6 separate regions of the Homo sapiens genome follow, and regions 1, 2, 3, 4 and 5 are each reported to be linked to region 6. The links are microRNA targets in miRTarBase. Many come from high-throughput screens and were not tested one by one. Region 6 holds a microRNA gene; each other region holds the end of a gene's coding sequence. Distances are between the middles of the regions.
Evidence for each region. Region 6 holds the annotated microRNA hsa-miR-3606-5p (UUAGUGAAGGCUAUUUUAAUU, at 1,398-1,418, opposite strand). A microRNA usually pairs through its seed, bases 2 to 8, with sites in the 3' UTR of a target mRNA and lowers its output. Matches are read on the target gene's strand: a 7mer-m8 pairs with bases 2 to 8, a 7mer-A1 pairs with bases 2 to 7 and ends in A, and an 8mer does both.

Region 1 (4,108 bases), not on the chromosome of region 6:
GAAGGCAGGGTTCAAAGCTGAGTTAGTAAGGATGAATTATTAAGGCTTTGGAAAGCACTGGGCTTGAAGCTGAAGGCAGCTATTCCTTAGAATTGAGGACCAGTGAGCGAAGGTTGAACATTTTTCATTCAGCTCCAGGAATTAGAAGGTGTCTTTGAACTTTTTAAGGCCTAGCTTGGGGACAATAGCCATCAGATAAAAGGCATGAATGCTTATACCAGGGCTTCTGTGGTCTGTTCCAGATGAGTATGTGGCCAGCCTACACCTGCCTACCTTTGATGCCCACTTGACAGAGCTGACAGATGAACAGGCCAAGTATCTGGGACTCAACAAGAATGGGCCCTTCAAGCCTAATTACTACAGGTGCCTTGGGCTCCCCAGAAATCAGGGACACCTGGGCAGTGATGAGCTTCCTGCACTGGAATTGGTCTTTGCATCCCCAACCACATATGCTTACATGAACTCAGAAAAATGAACCCACTTCCCCTCACTGCCACCTTCAAAAGACTCTTCAAGGCCTTAAATAGTATTCCCCTTCCTGAATTTGCCTTTTGGAGATAGAGAGGTGGAGTTTGGGTAAGTGGCTATTTGCCTCATTAAATAAAGTTCCCCTTCCTCAATTCCTTTCCCCATTTCATCTTGTTGCTATGATTTTTATCTCTTTATGGAGAAATATTGGCCTTTTTCAATGATGTGAAAAGGAAACACAGTTATTTCCTGTCACTGTACACTCCAGAAAAGTCTCTGCCTCCCTGTTACACCTTTAGGCAGGCTCTTCATGTCCCAGCATCCCCATTAGCTGATAACATCACAGTCTCATCTTTCTTTTTCCCTCCAGGTATTAAGTTCCTGTAACTCAAACCAGAATTTTTAAGGAATAGAACTCCAAGCCTTTTCTCCACTACTATACAAGAAAGAATTCAGCAAGCTGCTTCTCCAATCAAAGCTGCCTGCCGTGCTCACCCTGTGTGTTAGGTTATTTATTTATTAAAATCAAGAATCCTGTGCCTGTAGTGTTGGCCCAGAGTGTGGTTACTGCCCTGAGGGCCATGAAAGCCACAGAGGATGGGCTGAGGAAGGAAAGAAATGGGGTTACTGCTCCCAGTGCATCATTTGCATCATTCCCCATTGACTGAATCCTCAGCAGTGGCCGTTTTTCCTCTTGTCCAGGCTCACGAGTTAGTCCAGGGATTCCATACTCCCTATTCCCTGGAGTTTTCTGGAATAAATTTTCAGCACCTGCTTTTCTCAGCTTGGCCCTTCCCCGGGTGAGGCCGTTTGGAATTAACATGGCCAGTGTTTCACACAAGATTGGGTTCCCAATCTTGACCATCACTATCACTGCCTTCTTTATATAAAGGCTAATAAGGAAGGAGTGTTATTTATGGCTTTGCCAAGCTACATCAAGAACTCAGCTGTGCTGTGCCTACCAGGGGTCTCCTTTCTTACCCAGGACTCCTTTCTTCTCCTTGAATATTTATGTCCATTTTAACACTTCCTGGTTGCAAGAGGGATGTGCCTCCATTATTTCCTCCACAGTTTTGGTATTTGTCAGACATTTGTTCTGCTGTCTTTCTAATCCAGCCAACGTCTGCTCAGGAAGTGGGGCCAGCTCCACTGGGACCCATAGTTTTACTTCCTTGTCATTTGATTGGATAGTTTCCAAGGAAGCCCCTCCAGATTGGCACTATCTCAGAAAAGGAGAGCTTGTTGTGAAACACTGCTTCCTGAAACTTCCTGCTATTGCCTAAAGCTACGTCTGAAACTGAGTAGGGAAAGGCATACTTTTCCAGGGACTTAGGGGGATAGGCTTTGGAAATGGGACAGGTCTTTCAGACTCACAGCTTGATACCCTAACAAAGCAGAGTATATTTATTTGTTTCCCAGGAAGGCCATTGCAGTTTGACTGGCTGAGGGATACAGAGATGAAATTGTAAACTGTATCCAGATTATCAAAGCTAATTTGACTAGTTTGAACCTCGTCAGACATTCATTCCTTTGGCCATTGCCATGGATGAAACCGAGATCTGCAGTCTGATCTGTGGACTTCTCTGCTGGCATATCTTTTATGATTTAACCTCTTCCATTTGATGATTCTGTATTTCAGAGTCAGTTTCTTGAGTAACTCCAGTGCTACAAAAAGAATTAGTAATGTGGTGTGGGCAGCGTGACATTTTATGTCCCACCCAAAAATTGGATTCCTTTTGGAGACTGATCTGTTGGTCTCAGGCATTTCATTAGGACCAGATTGGTTCTAAGAGTTAGTCTGGACTGGCCCTAGGAAACTTGAATTAAATAAGCCTCTTCCCCTTACCGATCCTTTTTAACACTCTCAGGTTTGTTTGTTTCCCACTTTTTTCCTATGCTGGTCTGCCTCAAAGTCTCAAGACCAAGGTGACTCAAGATAACACCAGACCACGCATGATCACCAAAACCTTCCCATCCTGATTCTCTTCTTCTACCTCTACCCTCTCCAACTTCTCCTGGTCTTCACATATACTCTCAAAGCTAGTCTGAAAGTGACCTTACTTTCGGAAGTAGGGAAGTGGAACTTTGGTAAATGACTGTTTGCCTCATTTAATAGTATACAGGCTCAGCCCATAGACTACAGTTCTTCAGAGGCCATATGTCTCAGCAAGTACTGGTTATATTCTTTTTTTGTAAGGAAGATCATAAATGCTAAAAATTCCACTAAGCCATTCAGTTCTTCCTTTTGCCTACCTAGTCCTGATTTTTGTATTAATTGGTTCCCTTTAGCAAGGGATTCAGATCTTTGTACCTTATCTTATATCCAGAGCAGATTCCATTTGGCAGATAGATGGTCTCTAGCCTATTGTATTCTTAGACCAAAAATCATAACCTGCTGTTTCTCAGCAAAGCCTTGCTCTCTGGAGCTTACTATGTGCTGGTACTTAAAGAGTACATTCTGCCTTGCTGTAGTGAAGAGACCCACTCCAAATAAAAAAGGGGCCACACGGGGCTTCTAAGTTAGGTTGCCAGTGTTGCTGCCCATGATGAGTTATTTGCCTCTGAGTTTCAGATGACCTCTCTGTAGGGACACTGTGTTATCAACCATTAAGAAGAAAGAACCACAAGCCTCCCAAGTATTTGGGTTCTATCTTAGGGTTGAAATCTGGTCATTATTCCCTCTACCCTTGGAATCAGAGCAATGTGTCTTCTTTCCTCCAACCTCTTACCTTAGATGCATCCTGGTTATCTGGAAGCATGGGAAAGAAGGCTACTTATCTCTTTGTATGTGGCTCCAGTCTGTGAGGATACATAACATTTTCTCTACAATGAATCTGTGCTAATATTTTGCCTTCTTTCTTTCTTTTCTTTTCACCCTTAGAGACAGGGTTTCACTATGTTGCCCAGGCTGGTCTCAAACTCCTGGGCTCAAGCAATCCTCCTGCCTCAGCTTCCTGAGTAGCTGGAACCACAGGTGTGTGCTACCGTGCCTGGCACTTTTTTGCCTTCTTAATGGAGATATTCAGTTTTCTTTTTTTCATTTAAACAAAGAAAAAAAATGTATCTACTCTACCTTCCCTCTGCTCTCCTCCCTCCCTATCCTACTTGCCCATATGAGCACGGCTCCCCATGGCCACATACTCCTGCAAAGCTTTTATGCTGCTTCGCTTTTCTCTAAACAGATCTGATATTGCTGCTCCTGTGGTTTTCTCAAAATTAACTTTGCCGTGGTTTTTAAAAAGGAATCAAAATGCATTGTTGCATTAAGCTTTTTCAATAAAGGAAAATTACGGAAGGAAAATAGGCAACACCAGCAAATTATATGTGGACAGGTTCTAAACTCTATATATACATATATATATATATATCTATATATCTATATACGTAATCATCTAGTTCTGTCATCTTACTGAAAGGAATAACACTTCTAAAGATCACCATTTCTGAGAAGTTCTTGGAAATCTTTATGTCTAAGTGATTGTATTAGATCAGCAATAATGACTATGTAATCTCAAAAAACAAATAAAATATTCTTAACATGGACTCTTAAGGGTATTTCTTGTTTCTGTGAACTAGAAATTCAGAGATGAGAGAGATCTCTGGGCAACAAACTAGAGATCCTGCTGTAGGGCAAGGATGT
Region 2 (4,108 bases), not on the chromosome of region 6:
TCTCTACTAAAAGTACAAAAATTGGCTGGGCATGGTGGCGGACGCCTGTAATCCCAGCTACTTGGGAGGCTGAGGCAGGAGAACTGCTTGAACCCAGGAGGCAGAGGTTGCAGTGAGCCAAGATCGCACCACTGCACTCCAGCCTGGGCAAGAGTGAGACTCCATCTCAAAAAAAAAAAAGAATAAAATAAAATAAATCACAAGCCATCCTGAGTGATGAAATCTCATGATCTCCTGCTCTGTCCTGCCTGGGATGTGAATCACCCCTTTGTCCTGCTTATCCACACTGTATACTACCTGCCCCTTAGTCACTTAGTAGCCGCCTTGGTTGTCAGACTGAAAAAACATAGTTGATAAAGGGTTCAGTACTATCTGAGGTTTCAGGCATCCACTAGGGGTCTTGGAATGTATCTCTTACAGATAAGGGGAGACTACTGTATTACATTTCAGCTTCCATAAAACTTTACTAATTTGGATTAAGAACACAAGCCTGATTTAGTAAAAAGTATCCATAAATATTCAGAGGTATAGTTTTGTTTCATCAAGTAAAAAGAGCAACTAATTCCAACTGTTGAAGTAGTAACAAGTAAAGGCTTCACCAGGCTTTCCTTGATGAATAGTTAAGACATATTTTTAGGTCATCAGCACAAGATTATTGAATAACTTGTATGCTACAAACATGCCGCTTCCACTCATCGAAACAAGCCAATAATCCTTACTATTCCAACTTGCTGAGAACCATGTCAGATGCTGCGTTCAAGAATGAAATGTTCCTCAAAACTGTTCTATCAAATGTAGTAGCTATTGGACATAAAACAAGTAATTTATTTCAGACTTTAGTTTTCATGAAGTATTTATCAACAACTTCAATTTATTCCAACATTAATTTATGATAGGACAGTTATTAAAATTAACCATTTCTGAGACTGTAACTTTGAAATTGTAAGAAATGGACAATTAAGCTCACTAGTCAAAATCTTGATTCAAGTGATGATCCAATAGCTTACAAATGTCTTCAATAAACTGAGCTTTGAGGCAGAACAAAAAAAAAACAAAAATCTAAAACCTCTCTATCCCAAGCACCAATAATGGAGGCTAAGCAATTATACCTACAAATCCTTAACGACAGGTCTCTCCTAATGAAAAATCCTGAGATTTAAGCACTGTGACTTACAGAAGGCAGGTTGGCTTAATGAGGAAATTTACTTTTAATAAAAAGACAATCAGCAATATTTTATTTTGGGCACTTAGCATTTCACAGATCCTCAATACATTTTGAGGTAGGTCAAATATTAATTATGTATTTTACAAACAAAACTCAAGCAGTTGTTTTATTACTTGTCCCAAACCACAGGAGCAGTTCTATCGTGGTCAGGAATAACATGGTCTCTGATCTTTCAGATTAATCTTTCATGTGTGAATTTAATGGTAATTACTTGCAAATATTCATGAAAAAAACCAAGACTAGATATAGAAATTCTACTCTGGGTTATTTTAAACTTCTTAAATTGATTCTATAATGAGTATATACTTGCTCTCATTACAAATATATATATATAACTGATCTTTACATTACAAATGACCACAGCAGTGACTGTGTTGCTTTTCTGCCTTTTGGGGTGAGTAGATCAGGAAGATAATCAGCAAGCTTTCCTCAGAGCACTAGGCAGCCTTTAACTTAAGGTGCTATGTTTGAGGCACCATTGACTATGATTTGGGGTCATAGGAGAGCAGGTATACTGATGGAACCAGGATTCAGAAAAGATGCCTGGATCCAAAAACGGGAGGCTCTCTGCAAGTCAAAGATGAAGAGAAAAATAGTAGCATCTCAAGCTACTGATCCTGAGTATCATGCTACAGCATTACAACTACTTGTGAGAGGAGCTCCTACAAGAGCAGTAAACTTGTCCCAGTAAAGTCTGCTAAGTTCTAACTAGATAAGCCACAAGTAAAACTAAATTGGTATTTTACTAAAGTGACATCTACAGAAGCAAACATCTAAACATTTTTAATAGGAGTTTTACCTGTCATGTAAATTACTCTAATTGTCACAAGCCTAATTCAATTAGCTTGTCATAATTCCTAAAATAATTTACCAAAATTCAGCTCATCTTGACATAGGTTCTTGAGCCAGTATTCCGAACCGTTTCATTATAAAGTTCCTTTTATTTAAACAATTGTAGAATATTAGTAATAATAAAGGATCAAGAATAGTTAACTTGAGCCTAGGAGTAAGGTTGCAGTGAGCTGTGATTGCACTACTGCACTAGAGCTCAGGTGACAGAGCAAGGCCCTATCCTAAAAAAAAAAGAGAAAGAAGTTAACAACTGAGAAATTAGAAGGAAAACGCCATTATTGTGTTATATAAAAGAGTAAGGATATAGACACCTATGCTTCCATATACAACAAACAGCTCAATACCATTTGAGTCAAAGAACAAAGGGGAAAAAAAAGCAGGTGGCAGAGGGCATGGAATGCAGAGTATTGAAGCCTTTTATTCTAGGGTCTCCAAAACTGAGTGTGGAAGTAAAAAGTTTCTACATTTAAAAAGTTTATATAAATTACATGAATTGCAACTTTCATAAAAATCAAAATGAAAGGTTCTGCATAGGACAAAAGATATGCCTAAGCAACATATCGTATTTGCACAAGGCCACTGAATGTCATGGATATTAGTAACAAATGAAAAGCTTAAGTCTATGGCAGATTGAACTAAGATTTCAGTTTGGTATTCTATAAGCCCGAGATTGTAAACTACTCTTATTATACAAAAGCTATAATGATTTACAGAGTTTTGTGTAGGAACTCTTGTGCTTCTGGTTGGCACATTATCTACTTTTTAAGTATGTGAAATTAATACAGACATTTGTGAGAGGTTGTGCAAAACTACTGTATTTACAAAAATGGCACAAAAGTGAATTCAACAGTTAATGCACATGCATACTTCATTCACATCTTCAACAACAAAAGGTATTCTAACTCTACAGAACTGAATATTAGCTTCAACGGCAGCTGTTAAGCACTAGAGTCACATAAGTTACACCAGAATGGGCAAATATTGCCCAAGTAAAATTCTACTGTTAAAGCTGAAACAGGTTTAAGGCCATTCAAGTTCAAGCACAGAGATACAAATCTTTCAGAGCCCCATCTAGTTGTGTTTGAAATATGTGACCTTTCTTCTAACTTGTGGTCTTAAACTTCTGTTTTACAAAATCCAAAAGGTAAATACAGAAGAAATCAATACAATAGAGATTATATTAAATAAGAGTAACATACAAAGCTATAATTAAGATGAAGTAATGAAAGCCAAAACATTAAAATTTTAAAACTTGCTTGTTACTTGTTAGAACCAGTACTACACTAGAAGTTAGGTAATATATACAACTATTTTCAAGTAGTTTACTTATGTTGCTCTAACATGTCCTCTTCACCAGTGCACTGTTAAACTAATCAAAAACTCTACACACGTATATTCCACAATAGCAGCACACACTACTGCTACCTGCAAAGCTGTCAGTCTCAAATGACTAGTGAATGAAAGGAAATAAAAAGTAGATAAGTAACATATTAAGGAGAAATAATGAGATTTAGCAGATTCATGCAGTTCAGCCTCTTAATCAGCCAGCCAGCTTGCTAGCAACAAGGGACGGCTTCCGTTGAGGAAGGTCTTGCGGAGTGGGAATGTGGTCACCAGTGACCTCCGTCTTATCCGGAGCTGCAGTAGGAAGTTGCTTGTTCTTCATTTTTGCTTTAGCCATGTTGTAATCCCCAGAATCAAAATATTTTTGCTATAAGTAAAAACAAAAAAAATTCAGATTAGAGCTTAGCAATTACTGATTTAAGATGTCGATGCAACCCCATACTGTCCGTATAAGGTTGGTCTAAAAGAATTTAAACAGGAATATTAATTAGATGAAATAGTCTCTGTACTGAGTTCCAGCATAAGTCAACAGCCGAGAAGCCCCCCTTCAGACTGGGCACAGTGGCTCACTCTTGAAATCCCAACACTTTGGGAGGCCAAGGCAGGCGAAACACTTAAGGTCAGGAGTTCCAGGCCAGCCTGGCCAATATGGCGAAACCCTGTCTCTACTAAAAAAAAACAAAAAAA
Region 3 (4,108 bases), not on the chromosome of region 6:
TGGATTCGTCTCTGTCGGAAGTGCTCTTCCTCCCCTCTGGATGTCCAAATCTGCCACCGCCCCTGCAGGACAGGTCCCCTCTCTCCTCTGAGCTCCCCCAGCATGTCTCAGGTGTTCTGATCTCTGACACACAAGTCTGTCACCTCCAGGCACTTTAAGCTCCTGGGGGTGGCAGGGGCAGGGGGAAGCCCCTGATATGGCAGGGGATTGGGAAATGCTTGTGGAGTGAGGGAAGCAGGGAGAAGGATTGCTGGCCTCCAGGATCGCTGAGGCTGTCCCCACGGCATGACGTGTTTTCATGACTGTGGCCCCGTTTCCCTGGTGCCTGCTTCCTGGGGACACACTCAAGGGTTAAGCTACAGTGCTTGCCATCTGTTTACAGGAACTCTCGAGAACCCTGTCCTGGCTTCCCCTCCCAAGGAGGATGAGGATGGTGCCTCTGAGGAAAACTATGTGCCCGTCCAGCTCCTCCAGTCCAACTGATGGCCCAGATGCAGCAGGAGGCCAGAGGACAGAGCAGAGGATCTTTCCAACCACATCTGCTGGCTCTGGGGTCCCAGTGAATTCTGGTGGCAAATATATATTTTCACTAACTAACTCTTCTGGAAACATTATTTGGGCAGAGTTGCTGGGACCCTTAGAGCTGGCAATGTCTGCATGTCTCTGTGTGCACAGGTCTGTGTATGGGACTAGGTTGCTCCTGCCCTTGCCTGGGCACAGAGACCCTCAGTTGCTGTGTCCCCACCCTCACCCCCACATCCCCAAGTCTGGGGACTGTCCTCTTCCTGGGTACAGGCAGCTGGCTGAGGTGCTGTGCCCATTGTTGTGGCAGATATATGGTGATGGACATGGGCAAACAGCCACCTCTCCTCTCTCTCCACCACGACACCCTTTGCTTTCCACACCCACCCTGCTTTTGGGCAGGTACCTGGGAAAACCCATTAAAGCCACCTCTCTTGCTTTCTCTTCCTACCGAGCTTCTTGCTCAATTCCCACCCCTCCCAAGCCATTCTCTGCAGGGCAGCCAGAGGGCCTTCCTAAGACATAAGACAAACATGTCCTCTTTGTGCTCTGAAGGCCTGAGAGGCTCCCCAGTACCCACAGAATGCCCTAGCTGACATCCCGAGACCCCCACGGTTTTGCCCAAGCAGTTCCAGACACCTCCTCCCCTCCACCTCTGTTGCCCCTCCCTCCTTAGCACTCTCCCCAAATTCATGCAGGCCGAGAGACCTCGTGCTTGATCCCTTGACCTGGCTCTTGCTGGAAGCCCCCCTCCTCCATTAAAACCCTACACTTGGGGGTGGGGGGAGGGATAGCATTAGGAGATATACCTAATGTAAATGATGAGTTAATGGGTGCAGCATACCAACATGGCACATGTATACATATGTAACAAACCTGCACGTTGTGCACATGTACCCTAGAACTTAAAGTATAATAATAAAATAAAACCCTACACTTGCCGGGCGCCTGTAATCCCAGCACTCTGGGAGGCCCAGGCGGGCGGATCACCTGAGTTCAGGAGTTCGAAACCAGCCTGACCAACATGGAGAAACCCCGTCTCTACTAAAAATACAAAATTAGCCGGGCGTGGTGGCGCATGCCTGTAATCCCAGCTACTCGGGAGGCTGAGGCAGAAGAATCGCTTGAACCCGGGAGGCAGAGGTTGCGGTGAGCGGAGATCGCGCCATTGCAGTCCAGCCTGGGCAACAGGAGCGAAATTCCGTCTCAAAAAAACACAAAAACGAGCAACAACAACAACAACAACAAAAACCCTACACTTATTTCTGAGGCCAGCTCAAAAGGTCTTATGATTGTCTTCCCAGTTTTTTGCAGTCAAAATGAATTTCTTTCCCTTGGTATAACGTGTGTGTGCAAAACGTGGTTGCATGGATTCTTTTTCAAGGAGAGAGCTGAGCATGTTCATAGGCTGAAAGGAAAGCCACAGTAGAGAGAGTTTTCCATGGAAGGTGAGGCAGGGGCATAGGTGGAGGAGGCCCCAAGGAATGAGGAGAGGAAAGGAGGTGGGCAGAGCTTTACCCCAGAGGCGAGCAGAGGATGGACGTGGATCTAGATAAGACGTCAGCTCGTTCCCTAAAGGTCGTGCTAAAGGAGTAATGAGGGTGACCAGTGCGCAGGGGTTTGAGAAGCCCCGTGGATGTGGTGAAATAGCTGTGGGGAGAGTATTTGGCAACGCTCAATAGATTCAGGAGGAGCTACTAGGATGAATGGCTGCCTTGTGCCACAGCTCTACAGGCTTTCACGTGTGTCATCTCACGTGATCTTCTGGGGCGCTGGTGTCTCCGTTTACTAGAGGACCAATCGGAAGCTTAAAGAGAATGAGTAATTGGCCCAAGACCACCCAGCTAAGGAGTGGCGGAGGTGGGGCCCAAACGCGCGATCCAGCCCTCGCGCAGGCGCCCTGGAACTCCCCGCGCGTGTTGTGACCCAGAATTCCCGGGGCTGTGGAAGAGACCATAGACTCAACAGGAGGGGGAGTCCTGGGTAGCGCGCCGGTCTAAATCGTTACTTGGCGGAAAGTTCCCATGAGTCTTTGCCAGCGTCCCCCTCCTTTTGTGAGGATTGGGATATTCCGACTCCTTAAGGGCCTGGCGCACATAAGGTGTGACCTTTTCATTCCCGTTGTTATGGAGGTAGGCTCTCTAGGAATCTGGGAGTAGTAGCTGGGGGGCAAGAGCAAATAAAGAGCTCGAGCTTCTGTGGTCTCTGGGGAGATGTTCCCGGGAAGCCTGTCTAGAGGGCGGAGGGCAGCTGTTGAGATGGCGTGGCTCCCCGGCTCCTGCGCCCGCGTGGCTTTCGCGGCGGGCGCTGCGGCCCGGTATTGGACAGCCTGGCAGGGCAGCGCGGGGCCGAATCCGGCTGCCGTGGCTGAGGCTCATGGATCACTCTTTTGTGGTAGGGCCACATCTGCCAGAGCCTGGAGTCTGCGAAGGCCGGGACCCGGTTCCCCGGCCCACAGTGGGGGTGTGCAAACCCGAGAGAACTGGGTAAGTTGGGGTCGGCTTGCAGTTTGGGGTACCCCGAGGGCGGTGTACGTCGGTAAGATTGTAACAGTATTACTGGAAGACTTATTCGACTGTCCTGATGATACTTGTAATAGGAAGTGCCGTCAGAAGCGATAACTGACGACGTCTAATGTCTATCTGACCGCAGTCGCTGAAACCTCTACAACTTAGTTGACCGTAACTGCCAGAGCCCTGCCCTGAATTCCTGTCCTTACTCCCTCTTTAAGATTGCGTACCCACTGCAGAGTGCTGAAGACGGGGTAGCCACGAGGTGAGAGGCTCTCTGGTGTAGGGTTTAACATGGAACGTAGTTTTGTCACTTGAATGCACGGAAATTGGCGTTTTGACAGTTTTCTACGTTTAGGTGTTTTATACACTTTAGGGTAACGTTATCATGTCATTGCATAGGGTGGAACTTAAATAGAAACTGGAGATGGCTGCTTCAGCCACAGTCCTAACCTAGAACTGCATTTAAAGCAAACTGATAATGCAGAAACAAACTCCTTCGTTAAGAAATGTCTCCAGTAGCAGGGTTAGCTTAAGTTTCAGGTAGGGTCTAGATCTGCGGTTGGAACAGTACTGGAGGGTTGTGAGGTGCTTGACTGCTCTGATGAAATCACTAATAGGAAGTGCCGTCAGAAGCGATAACTGACGAAGACTACTCCTGTCTGATTGCAGTCAAGTCTTCACCACTTGCTGGTTCCCAGGAGTAAACTTGTTTGAACGGTGACCTAATTGCTATATTCACCTAGGTTGCAAATTCGTGAAGAATCAGCATCATGTTTGGCAGCTGAGTATTGGAGCCAGGAGCCTGCCATGAGGTAAGCCTTGCTCTATGGGGAGGCTAGTGGCTGACCACGCCTAGCTGTCAGGTCGAATATTGGCAATTGGATTTGGTTAACCTAATACCTTGTAACAGTGTAGCCTATCCCAGAGATACTGATTTTAGTTTCCGGTGGCAGTGGAGCCAGGGTGGATTACCTAGAAAGAGGGGCTACTCTATTTACCTCTTGGCTGTTTAGTCTCGGGCAAATTACCTGTCTGCTGAGATGTAGTTTTCCTCAGATGTGAAAAGGAAAAGT
Region 4 (4,103 bases), 42 Mb from region 6:
AGGGAAAAGGAAGACATTATTAAATGGCCTTAAACATTTCTGTACTATCATAAGGTTACTCAGAAAATGCTGTGCATAAAAATCACACAAGTAGAATTTTTAAAAGTTAAATTAATCCATAAGCTTTTGATCAGAAATTAGATTTCAGTGTAGTAGTATTTTGACTTGTCTTCCAGATAAAGATAAATAATTAAATTATCAAGGAACATAAGCAACTCAAGTAGATTAATTCTCACTTAACATTTGGGATAACCTAAAATGAGGCCCCAGATTATCTGCAACACTGGGTGTCTCAGCTCATTGCATAACTGCTATATTGTTTTTTTCTTTGCTTTTTTAGGAAGATAAATTCACCAGACTGGGAATTCAAGTACAGGACATCTTTGAGAAGAATTTCAGAAACATTTTTGCAATTCAGGAAACAAGCAAGAACATTATAATGTTTATTTAGCCATTCTTATCTCCTCCCTTCAGATCCTCTGGCAGCTAGCTACGCAATGTGCCTGTGGTCCCACTAATCTGTGACTGCTCCTGTGGAAACTCCACATCACAATTCTCCAAAATTTATCATTGCCATTTTAAAACCGTCTTTTCAGCTTTCAATAAAATTCAACACCCCTTCATGTTAAAAATTCTCAATAAGCTAGGTATTGAGGAACATATCCCAAAATAATAAGAGCCATTTATGACAAACCCACAGACAACATTATATGGAATGCGCAAAAGAAGCATTCCCCTTGAAAACAAGCACAAGACAAGGATTCCCTCTCTCACCACTCCTATTCAACAAAGTATTGGAAGTCCTGGTCAGAGCAGTCAGGAAGCAGAAAAAAATAAAGGGTATCTAAATAGGCAAAGAGGAAGTCAAACTATCCCTGTTTGCACACAACATTGATTCTATATCTAGAAAACCCCCTAGTCTCAGCCCAGAAGCTCCTTCTGCTGATAAACAATTTCAGAGATGTTTCAGAATACAAAATTAGTATATGAAAATTACTAGTATTCCTATACACCAGCAATAGCCAAGCCAAGAGCCAAATCAGGAAGGCAATCTCATTCACAATTGCCACTAAAAGAATAAAATACCTAGGAATACAGCTAATCAGGGAGGTGAGAGAGTTCTACAATGAGAATTACGAAACACTGCTCAAAGAGATTGGAGATGACACAAACAAATGGAAAAACATCCCATGCTCCTGTGTAGAAACAGTCAATATCATTAAAATGACCATACTGCCCAAAGCAGTTTACAGGTTCAATGTTATTCCTATCAAACCACCAATGACATTCTTCACAGAACTAGATAAAACTATTTTAAAATTCATACAGAACCAAAAAAGAGCCCAAATAGCCAAGGCAATCCTAAGCAAAAAGAACAAAGCTGAAGGCATCACGTTACCCCACTTCAAACTATATTACAGGGCTTCAGTAACCAAAACAGCATGGTACTGGTACCAAAAAAAAAGCCACATAGACCAATGGAACAGAACGAAGAGCACAGAATAAGACCACACTCCTATGACCATCTGATCGTCGATAAAAACAAGCAATGGGAAAAAGACTCCCTATTTTATAAATGGTGCTGGGATAACTGGGATAGAAGATTGAAGCTAGACCTCTTCCTTACACCATATACAAAAATCAACTCAAGATCAATTAAAGACTTAATGTAAAATCAAAAACTATGAAGACTCTGGAAGACAACCTAGGCAATACCATCCTGGACATAGGAACAGGCAAAGATTTCATGATAAAGACAAAAGCAATAGCAACAAAAGCAAAATTTGACAAATGGGATCTAATTAAACTTAAGAGATTCTGCACAGCAAAAGAAACAATCAACAGAGTAAACAGACAACCTACAAAATGGGAGAAAATATTTGCACACTATGCATCTGACAAAGGTCTAATAGCCAGCTTCTATAGGGAACTTAAACAAATTTACAAGACAAAAAGAAATAACCCCATTAAAAAGTGGGCAAAGGACATGAAAGACACTTTTTTTTTTTAAGATGGAGTTTCACTCTTGTTGCCCAGGCCAGAGTGCAATGGCGTGATCTTGGCTCACCACAACCTCTGCCTCCCGGGTTCAAGCAATTCTCCTGCCTCAGCCTCCCAGGTGGCTGGGATTACAGGCATGCACCACCTGACTGATTTTGTATTTTAGTAGAGACGGGGTTTCTCCACATTGGTCAGGCTGGTCTTGAACTCCCGACCTCAGGTGATCCACCCACCTCGGCCTCCCAAAGTGCTGGGATTACAGGCATCAGCCACCATGCCCGGATGAAAAGACACTTTCCAAAAGAAGATACACATGCGGCCAACAAGCATGTTTTAAAAGCTCAATATCACTGATCGTTAGAGACATGCAAATTAAAACTACAATGAGACACCATCTCACACCAGTCAAAATGCCTCTTTCTAAAAAGTCAAAAAATAACAGCTAGTAAGGTTGTGGAGAAAAGGGAACATTTATACACTATTGATGGGAGTGTAAATTAGTTCAACCACTGTGGAAAGCAGTGTGGCAACTCCTCATAGTGCTAAAAGCAGAACTGCCATTCCACCCAGCAATCCCATTACTGGGTACATACCCAGAGGAATATAAATCATTCTACCATAAAGACACATGCATGCAAATGTCCACTGCAGCACTATTCACAATAGCAAAGATACAGAATCAACCTAAGTGCCCATCAGTAACAGATTGGATAAAGAAAATATGGTACACATACACCATGGAATAGTATGCAGCCATAAGAAACAATGAGATCATGTCTCAGGAACATGGATAGAGCTGGAGGCTATTATCCTTAGCAAACTAATTCAGGAACAGAAAACCAAATACCACAGGTTCTCAGTTGTGAGTGGGAGCTAAATGATGAGAACTCATGAACACAATGAAGGGAACAGACACTAGGGTCTACTTGAGGGTGGAGGATGGGAAGAGGGAGAGGAGCAGAAAAAGTACCTATTGGTGATGAAGTACTCTGTACAACAAACCCGTGACAAGAGTTTCCCTATATAACAAACCTTCACATATACCCCTGAACCTAAAAGTTTTTTTAATTGTAAATAAATGGATCATTAAAAAAAATTTTAATAATAAAATTGTCTTATCAAGTTCTCTTATTGAATAATTTGGAACGAAACTTACAACTGATAACATAAAGTCTTTCTATAAAGGATCATATTATATCTTCCCAATTATTCAGTTTTGTATTTTTTGTTGTTGCCGTGAAAGCAATCTTTTCCCATTGAATTTTATTACTGATTATTGCCTATTACACAAAGCTACTGTTATTTATACGTAATTTTGTCACTGATTACCATACTGAATACTAGATGGTATCATTTTCACCTTTTACCCAGTGGCATCAGGAAGCCTGTGGTGGCTACATAGCACCTCCAACTTTCAATTCATGGAATCGTATTCGGTTTAGGGGATGGAAGCATTCCTCCATTGAGCACTAAAATCTCGGACAATTCTTTTTTTTTTTTTTGAGATGGAGTCTCACTCTGTAGCCCAGGCTGGAGGGCAGTGGCACAATCTCAGCTCACTGCAAGCTCTGCCTCCTGGGTTCACGCCATTCTCCTGCCTCAGCCTCCCAAGTAGCTGGGACTACAGGTGCCTGCCACCACGGCCGGCTAATTTTTTGTATATTTAGTAGAGACGGGGTTTCACCATGTTGGCCAGGATGGTCTCGATCTCTTGACCTCGTGATCCACCCACCTCGGCCTCCCAAAGTGCTGGGATTACAGGCGTGAGCCACCACGCGTGGCCAGACAATTCTTGGTTCTGTTGGAAAATGATTCTGCCAGGGCACCCTGGTGTATTTGCATGTGTAAAAGAGGAAAAAATAATTTTCCCACTACCCTTCTAAGTTTCCCCTACCCAGATCCTCTGGGGCCCCTGTAACAAAAGACAGATTAACAAGAGAAAAACAGAAGTTTATTAGCATATATATATATATATATACACACACACACACACACATATATGTATACACACATGTATATACATACATATATGTATACACATATGTATATGCATATATGTGTGTGTGTATATATGAGAGATACTCAGAGAGATGAATAACTCT
Region 5 (4,000 bases), not on the chromosome of region 6:
GCTTTTTAAAAAGGTAAAACAGCAGCCTCCATTTTTTTTTTAAAAAAAACCTACTCTATGCCAAGCACTCTACAAAGCCATTTAGATAAACTATTTCAAATTCTCCCCATAATCCTGTAAAGTAGAAATTACTGTCTCAGTTTCAGATGAAAAACCAGACTCAGAAAAGTTCAGTAAAAGTCATACGGGTCTAGAATTTTTAATGTTTTTGGTTTACTATTTATTCTTGTATTTGGAAATTGAAGTAATATAATTTTCATCATACTCTGAAATACACAAATGCTAAAGTTAACAAAAAATAACCAATAAAGACTGACACGACTGGCAATAAAATCCTTTAATTTTTCTTTTTGAGAGAGAAGCATGCTTTTAAATACAGCACCTGTAAACAAGTTAGTGAAGTATATACTATTTTGAGATTCCCCCTCTCAATTTTTTTTTTGGAATGTTAGGTTACAACATCAACTGCATTACGTAACAGTTATTGAAAGCAAGTCAGGGTAAAATTTTATAGCCAAAAATATTCATAGCAGCAACTTTTAAAATATGATTTTATTAAATCAAGTCATTGCACTTGGTCATTTTATTGCTACAGCAAAACAAGGCCTTTACATTATAATACTTCTCATTTCTGATTTAACTGATTGTCTCATTCTGCTCATACATTTCAAGTTTAAATGCAAGCATAAAATGTTTATCAACAAATCTAGAGAGCACTTGGATTTTTAATTTTTCTGTGATCACAGTAAGGAGCATAAAAAAGAGTATCTTCTGTTACACAAGGCCTGTTCTCTCTTTACATCTTCAGACTTAAATTCTGTAGAAGGTAACAGCTTTGTATTAAGACAGAAGCTTAGTGGTCACAAACAAAAAATAACACTGAAATACAATTCAGAAATTAATGATACTGTGTGTCTCAAAGAATACCTGAACTATACATTCACTAATAATTTGGCAATGAGATTCCATGCTGTTCAACTTTTGTCTTTTATACTCACACGTAGAAAAAAAATTCATGATTTACCCCAAGGTTATTATTAAATATCATTTTGTGATATGAACTTTAGTAATAGAAATTAATAACATTTCCCATACCAACAGAAAGTAAGTTGCTAGAATAAAGGAATCATTTTTCCCATCAGGCCTGGGTTTGTTTGGTTTTCTTTACTATTTTATCAAGGACAGAAAGGTAAAAGTATTTCAGTTACTTTTCTATTCTGACTGAGGAGGACACAAGCAAAAACTTTAAATACATTTCCATGCTCATAAGCATCTTGATTTCATGTACTATTGAGAAAATGACCAACAAAAACTTTAAGAACAGCCTGAAATCTGCTGGAAACTTCCCTCATCCCATTATTAGGATGACCAGGGATCACTTCAATAGATTTTCAGGTGAGAAAGCTGGAGGATAATTTCTAGGATTACAATATTTTTGTTTTACCTAAGGTTGGTCATTAAAAGAAAGTAAGATTTAATTTATTTAACAAGAAGAAAATAATTCATTTGACTAGTCATTTAAACCTATTCTATTTAACAGAAGAGGGAACAATTTTGTTCAGTAGTGACCTCATTAGAAGAGCCCATTTTGAAGAGTTCTAATGTATATTCTCAATATATAATTAGCATTCCCCCAAACCCCTAATGTAAGTTGTAAATTAAACATTATGTTGTTTACTGGCATTTCTATTTTCTACTTCAGTTCTCTTTATTTGAAACATGACAAAATTTCATTTACATAAGATTTCTATATTATAAGATTAAAATTTAAAGGAAAAATATTGGTTTGGTGGTTTAAAACTAAAAAAAATGGAAGCATGATCATTGGTACTCAAAAATCTGACACTCATTTGCGATATAATAAAGCATAAAACAATTTTTTGCAAATAAAAAATTTCAAATTTTAAAAATTTAAATAAACCCACTTGTGTTTTAGATGTTACCTACAGACAGAACATTTTAAAGCATTCAACTGTTCATAAGTAACTCTGAAGAAACAACTAATTCATCCATTCTGTGAAAATGTATTTTAAATATGTTCAACTATATTTGGTTTTAAATAAGCTGTAATGTTATATTTTATGACATACTAACATTCTTTATAAAGTTTGTACCTAAATAATAGTTCAAAATATCTCCATGAGTTAGTTTGGTCTATTAGGTAAATTATACATCGTAAAACCTGAGTATTTACAAGTTAACTTGTCAAAATAGGAAACCTCACACTGAAGTTCTGAAAAGCTTTGGGTTTTGTTTTCCTATTACCATTATTAAAAGTCAGAAGGAGAAACATGAAGAACTAAGTGACAAGATAATGAGAAATATTTGAGGCTGTAAAATAAGCAGAAAAGTACAGCAACAGGCTGGTGTTTACATATTTTATATGTGCTGTAGTTTCTAGGCACAAGTTAAGGGTTAAATTAACAGTTTTAGATTCTTCAGACCTAACAAATTTAAAATACAGTTCATATTTCCCCAAATGTTTAACAATCCAACATATTTTAACTAAGTTCCTTTTATGACTCCTATAGTGCAAGCAACATAAAATATTCTAAAAGTTGATGAAATTATTTTGATTATTCATTAGTTCTTACTATATGCATGGGTGAGTAATCTGGTTTATATAGCTAGGAAACTCCTATTTCATCACCCAAAATATAAACAGCATTGCAGACAAACAGGCACAACAGTGTAACCTTCGGTAAGAGGATAAAAGTAAAAATATATATATATATATACACACACACACACACACACACACACACACACACACACACACAGAGTTTATATCCCTTATGCATTATGGAAAAAGTAGTGACTATAGTTACTAAAAGGCTAATCTGTCCCTCTCAAATAGTATATCTTAACAGATTACTTGTAAATATATCACCATATTTATAGTATAGATCTCTTTAAAAATAATACAAGTTTCAATAAAAAAACTACTGTGCACATTCTTATTTATATTCAGTAGTATTTTCAAGCAAACAATTTTTTAAAAAGTGTTTGCAATCCCAGCACAGTTAAGAAATAAGGCCTCTTTTTCTTCATATTGGCAAAACAAAATATATATATAAATTCACCCTCACTCTACTTTTCTATAGATATTACACTTCATTTGCTCATATTTATCACAACAACAGAATTCACAATTTTTAAGTAACAAGTCAGCTGAAGTTCATAGCGTTGCTTCTGAATCCCTGGAACATTATGAACACCAGGTCCACACCACTCAAGAAGACAGGACAGCTTTTTTCAGCTTCTCTATTTCCATCTAAAACAAAAAACATAAATTGAGCAAACATAAAATATCCTTAGTTTAGTAGTTTATTTTACTCTATGTCATTAAGATGTGATCATACTTTCAAGCCTTCAGACTTTTTTTCCAGACCTAAAATCCAGTTTCCCATGCTATAATTTGGTTGAATAAAGTTTCAACAGTACAATGCAAGTTCCTAAATGGCAGTTACAATAAGAAAAAAGCAATTATAGCCCTTTCAGCCAGAACAAATGTTAAGTCATGTGAGCATTTAAAATTAAAGCTGTAAAAAAATCAGTCAGTCCTACAAAGAACAAAAGAATCCTTGAAACCAAATTAAGAAATGTACATGTATCTATAATTAAACAAAGGATACATAAACAACAGTAAAAAGAATAGAGACCTGTTTAGTTCCATGTTTTTCACTAATTATACTTAATTATAATTATAATTATTGTTAAATCACTTGACTTGGTTTCAATTTACTTATCTGTAACCAGTATATACTACATTAAATATCTTAAAGCCCAGGAATATATCTAAGATTCAGTCAAGGTGCTTGATATAGTTCCACCTTTAGGCAGAAGGAAATTCATAACTTAAGGAATTTATGAAGAAGGAGATCATTTCATTAAGTTTGCACAATAACTACACAGAGTTATTCAATACTGCCATATTCAAATGGCTAGGTTGAGGCTCAAAGACATTAAACAGGATGCCAATGTTCCACACTAACAAGTG
Region 6 (4,102 bases):
TATGTCTCATATATATATGTCTCATATATATATGTCTCATATATATATATACACACACACACATACATATTTTTGAGACTGAGTCTTGCTCTGTCGCCCAGGCTGGAGTGCAGTGGCGCAATCTTGGCTCACTGTAGCCTCTGCCCCCCGGGTTCTAGTGATTCTCTTGCCTCAGCCTCCTGGGTAGCTAGGATTACAGGCACATGCCACCATGCCTGGCTAATTTTTGTATTTTTAGTGGAGACAGGGTTTCACCATGTTGGCAAGGCTGGCCTAGAACTCCTGACCTCAGGTGATCTGCCTGCCTTGGCCTCCCAGAGTGCTGGGATTACAGGCGTGAGCCAGCGCACCCAGCCTGTTTCATATTTTTTATCTGCCTGCTCCATACACACACATACAACCATAACCAATTATATATTTAGCTCCCTTCCTACATGCAATTTGATTTTCATATACTCCTCCATGCTTTGAAGAGGAGACTGAGTTTTGACCATTTCTTTACTCCATATGGAAAATAAAAGCCTTCCAGTCAAATATTTATTGAAGAAATTAATGAAGGAACTCACATCATTTCCTTTAGGACCGGGGAAGCCCATGACACCAGGCTGACCTCGGGGACCAGATGGCCCAGGAGGACCTGGTCGACCACTTTCTCCTTGACTTCCCTAATAAGAAAAAATTACATTAATAAAGGTTTGATAAAGAGAAGATTAAAGCATGCTATATATATAGTATGTGTGTGTGTGTGTGTGTGTGTATATATATAGATATACATATACATATATATATATACACACACACACACACACACACTCAAGGATAGGCCAACATATACATTCCATTTTAACTGGCCTTTTAAAATGAGATTTTAAAAATGTACATACGGGAGGCCCTGGTTTCCCATCACTTCCTGGTCCTCCTGGACTTCCGGGCATGCCCTGAAGTAAAGAAGTCAGTTGTTAGGTGATTTAAAATGAAATAATAAAAAATTACTACATACACTATTTGTATGATTTTGATATTTTCACTTACATGTGAAGCCTCAGATTTGCACATCTTTTTTCCTGTCTATAAAGTATCTAAGGCAAGTGTTCTATCTTCTCTTCTCCTTGAACTATCTCGGCTTAAGTTTACTTAAAAGAATTTTGTTTTGTTTGGTGCCTTACAAAATATGTAATCTGATTGATTTAAGTTGCTTTTGATCTGTCTTCATTTGTCTTGCCTTTCTTCTGTCTAAATTAAAGTGTCATTCAAACAAATGTTTCTCTGTACCCTCATTCCTGGACCTCCAGGGACGCCATCTCTGCCAGGTTCTCCAGCAGCTCCTCTGGGCCCTGCAGGGCCTGGAGCACCACGCTCTCCAGCAGGACCCTAAGTAGTGAAAGAAATTTTAAAAAAATTAAAATAGCCTTCACTAACCTAGATAGCAACAATATTTTGGTTACAAAGAGAGGACGTCATTTGAACTTTTAAAAAGGGTTCGTGTGTTGCTGAAACATTTATACATAAAATCAGTTATCTTAGCTTGGATTGCCATATTGAAAAAATTTTAAAGCAACTTTGTGAACATCACATGCTTAATAAAACAGTATTCACTGTGCTTAAAAATATAATTATGTGCAGCTAAAATCAAATATCTTAATGCTATGAAATCATATTTGATGTAACCTTAGAGTTTTCAAAGACTTTTCAGGCATTTTAGTTTACTGTACTCTTGCAACGATGCTCAGATAAATGCTTTCCAATTAACAGATAAGTAAAGGATTCTCATAGAGGGTAAGTAAGTGGCTTTAGTTACAAAGCCAGGAAAGTTGTTGAACAGAGGATGCATTATATTAGGAATTTTTCTTAACTCTAATATATATTCTTCAGATATTTAGGTTTTCATGAATGAGAAATTGTATACAAGAACTGCCCATTTGTGGTGCTAGCATTTAGGAACATAGAAACTAAAGTTATCTACCTTTTCTCCTGGGATGCCATTTGGTCCAGCAGGTCCTCGGAACCCAGGGGCACCCTGAAAATAATGAAAGACAAGTATTTCAGTCCAAAGGATTTCAATTCTTTTTCATAATTCTTGAGTGGCAAATATTTTTATGTCATAGAATGCTTTAAACAATATTTTCACTGAACACTCAACTTAAGAAAAATTGGCTGTCTCACCCTGAAGGTAGTTTTATTTAGATGACAGTGATGCTGCTTTTCTTTTAGATGCCCCATGGAAAACGTACCCTTTCTCCTGCAGCTCCTGGAAGCCCATTTGCACCAGGTTCTCCAGGTGATCCATCCTTGCCATCTTCGCCTTTAGCTCCTGGAACACCTGGAATACCAGCCTCACCCTGAAAAAAAAAAAAGATGGTAAAATAAAGAAATTATGACTGAATTTAGTTCAAAGTTTTTACCTGTTTACTTTCTAATTATGTTGCATTTTTTCAAGAAATAACCAGATCTGTTGCAGTAAAACTTACGCGTTCACCACGTGGTCCGGGCTCTCCTTTGGCACCATTCTTACCAGGCTCACCCTAAAGTATAACAAAGTCTTGGTTGAAACACAGGGAGGATTCGACTAACAAATCATCACCAGTAACACATAATTCAGTTATAAGTTATAAGACAAGAGTGAAGTCAATATAAATTCAACTGAACAGGAGCAAAATTTTGCTATTAATTTTTTGTTGATGGAATTAAACTATACCTTTCAGTCAACAGAGAAAAAACAAGGCAACTTACTGCACCACCTCGCAGTCCAGGAGCACCATTAGCACCGGCTGGTCCTGGAGGACCCCGGGCTCCCATCAGTCCAGGAGCTCCAGGAATGCCAGCGGGACCCTAAGAACAAACCAAAGACACTATATTAGCCGAACTTGAATGTTCTTTTATGAATATCTCACTTAAATATCACAAATCTATTGTCATGCAAAATGCAAAAGAAGCCAGTAATGTGTGGATGAGATAAGGCTGAGGAGTGGGGACAGCTTACCATTTCGCCTTTACCACCAGGACTACCATTAATCCCAGGAGGGCCCTAAGTATACAAAAAACAGATAATGTATTAATAGTAATGCAAATAGTTCGTATATATTTGAAGTTGTTTGTGTGAAAATAAATGTATCGATGAGTGTTATGCTTTGTAGAGATTAAGTGAATCCTCCAACTATAACACAACATATGAAATGTGGTCAAAAGAATCATCATTATCTAAATAAATTAGAGATAATATGTACTTCGTATAAATTATTAAATGATACATAAATAGAAGAGATTTTGAATTTGGTTCTTCTCTGAATTTTTATGATTGGTGATTAGCTTGGGGCACATTCTTGAAAGCATCAGAAAACTAGTCTATCCTCTATTCTTTTATATAAACATAAAAAATCATGAATTCTGGAATAGTGCAACAGTCAAAAACTATCATTTTTACTACTAATCAAATCAGTATGTGTCACAGGAGGATCATTTTAGAGCACTAAGCAACAATTTTTTCAAAGTAATTTTCACTGATAGCCATATTGAAGCACATGCTTTCATGGAGTAAGCATGAAACTATGCTTTCATGGAGTAAGCATGAAACTATGCTTACTCCCTCTCAACTATGATACTTACAGGAGGACCTTGAGCACCAGCGTGTCCCTGAGGTCCAGGTTCTCCTCTTTGTCCAGGGGCACCATTTGAACCAGGAGACCCTGCAGGTCCAACTTCACCCTAATGGTAAAACCTTGTGTAGTCAGTTTCTCTTACCACTTCTACTCACTTAGCCACTTCACCCTTCAGTCCTGTTTAAACACATCTCCCAAAAGTTGGAGTAGTGGGACTCTATACTGCAGGTAAAGCAAGGAATCATTAATCGTAAAGGCAGAGAAAAATGTAACTATGTGTGTGTGATTGCATTATCAGTTTCCTAGAAAGAGTCTGGGGAAAAAAAGAAGGTAGCAGAAGAAATATCAAGATAGTTGAATACTAGGGACAACACCTCTTTTAGAATCAAGAATAGGGCTTTAAAGACATGTATAGATAAAAGCTATCCATTTGACTGATTAAAAAAATCAGTTGCAAGAAGCAATCTAATGCTTTTCTCTTGCCTCCAAGATATTTTTATACCCTT

Region 1: miRTarBase lists AHCYL2 as a target of hsa-miR-3606-5p. Seed matches in the 3' UTR shown: 7mer-m8 at 3,359-3,365.
Region 2: the mRNA of ARPP19 is a reported target of hsa-miR-3606-5p. Seed matches in the 3' UTR shown: 7mer-m8 at 3,529-3,535.
Region 3: the mRNA of TRPV2 is a reported target of hsa-miR-3606-5p. Seed matches in the 3' UTR shown: 8mer at 586-593.
Region 4: the mRNA of SP100 is a reported target of hsa-miR-3606-5p. The part of its 3' UTR that is shown has no 7-base or 8-base seed match.
Region 5: the mRNA of CD2AP is a reported target of hsa-miR-3606-5p. Seed matches in the 3' UTR shown: 8mer at 394-401.

Annotation. Positions count from the first base shown.
Region 1 is chr7:129,426,201-129,430,308 of GRCh38, forward strand. It overlaps AHCYL2 (adenosylhomocysteinase like 2), which reads left to right. Exons shown (of 17, transcript NM_015328.4): 16 at 243-363; 17 at 839-4,011. The coding sequence ends at 845. Among named protein-coding and RNA genes, the nearest start is that of STRIP2, 6.2 kb to the right of the region's middle.
Region 2 is chr15:52,548,317-52,552,424 of GRCh38, forward strand. It overlaps ARPP19 (cAMP regulated phosphoprotein 19), which reads right to left. Exons shown (of 3, transcript NM_006628.6): 3 at 1-3,788. The coding sequence ends at 3,618. Among named protein-coding and RNA genes, the nearest start is that of ARPP19, 19 kb to the right of the region's middle.
Region 3 is chr17:16,436,407-16,440,514 of GRCh38, forward strand. It overlaps TRPV2 (transient receptor potential cation channel subfamily V member 2), which reads left to right. Exons shown (of 15, transcript NM_016113.5): 15 at 383-597. The coding sequence ends at 483. SNHG29 (small nucleolar RNA host gene 29) reads left to right here and starts at 2,581. Exons shown (of 4, transcript NR_045025.1): 1 at 2,581-2,654; 2 at 3,779-3,847. It overlaps SNORD49B (small nucleolar RNA, C/D box 49B), which reads left to right and starts at 3,103; the gene lies at 3,103-3,150. SNORD49A (small nucleolar RNA, C/D box 49A) reads left to right here and starts at 3,630; the gene lies at 3,630-3,700. RefSeq lists enhancers at 1-479, 1,083-1,984, 1,985-2,884, 2,000-2,189, 2,250-2,579 and 1 more.
Region 4 is chr2:230,542,496-230,546,598 of GRCh38, forward strand. It overlaps SP100 (SP100 nuclear antigen), which reads left to right. Exons shown (of 29, transcript NM_001080391.2): 29 at 341-3,111. The coding sequence ends at 451. Among named protein-coding and RNA genes, the nearest start is that of SP100, 130 kb to the left of the region's middle.
Region 5 is chr6:47,623,460-47,627,459 of GRCh38, reverse strand. It overlaps CD2AP (CD2 associated protein), which reads right to left. Exons shown (of 18, transcript NM_012120.3): 18 at 197-3,274. The coding sequence ends at 3,233. Among named protein-coding and RNA genes, the nearest start is that of ADGRF4, 73 kb to the left of the region's middle.
Region 6 is chr2:188,992,961-188,997,062 of GRCh38, reverse strand. It overlaps MIR3606 (microRNA 3606), which reads right to left and starts at 1,433; the gene lies at 1,371-1,433. It overlaps COL3A1 (collagen type III alpha 1 chain), which reads right to left. Exons shown (of 51, transcript NM_000090.4): 16 at 3,604-3,702; 17 at 2,981-3,025; 18 at 2,731-2,829; 19 at 2,469-2,522; 20 at 2,232-2,339; 21 at 1,964-2,017; 22 at 1,273-1,371; 23 at 885-938; 24 at 567-665.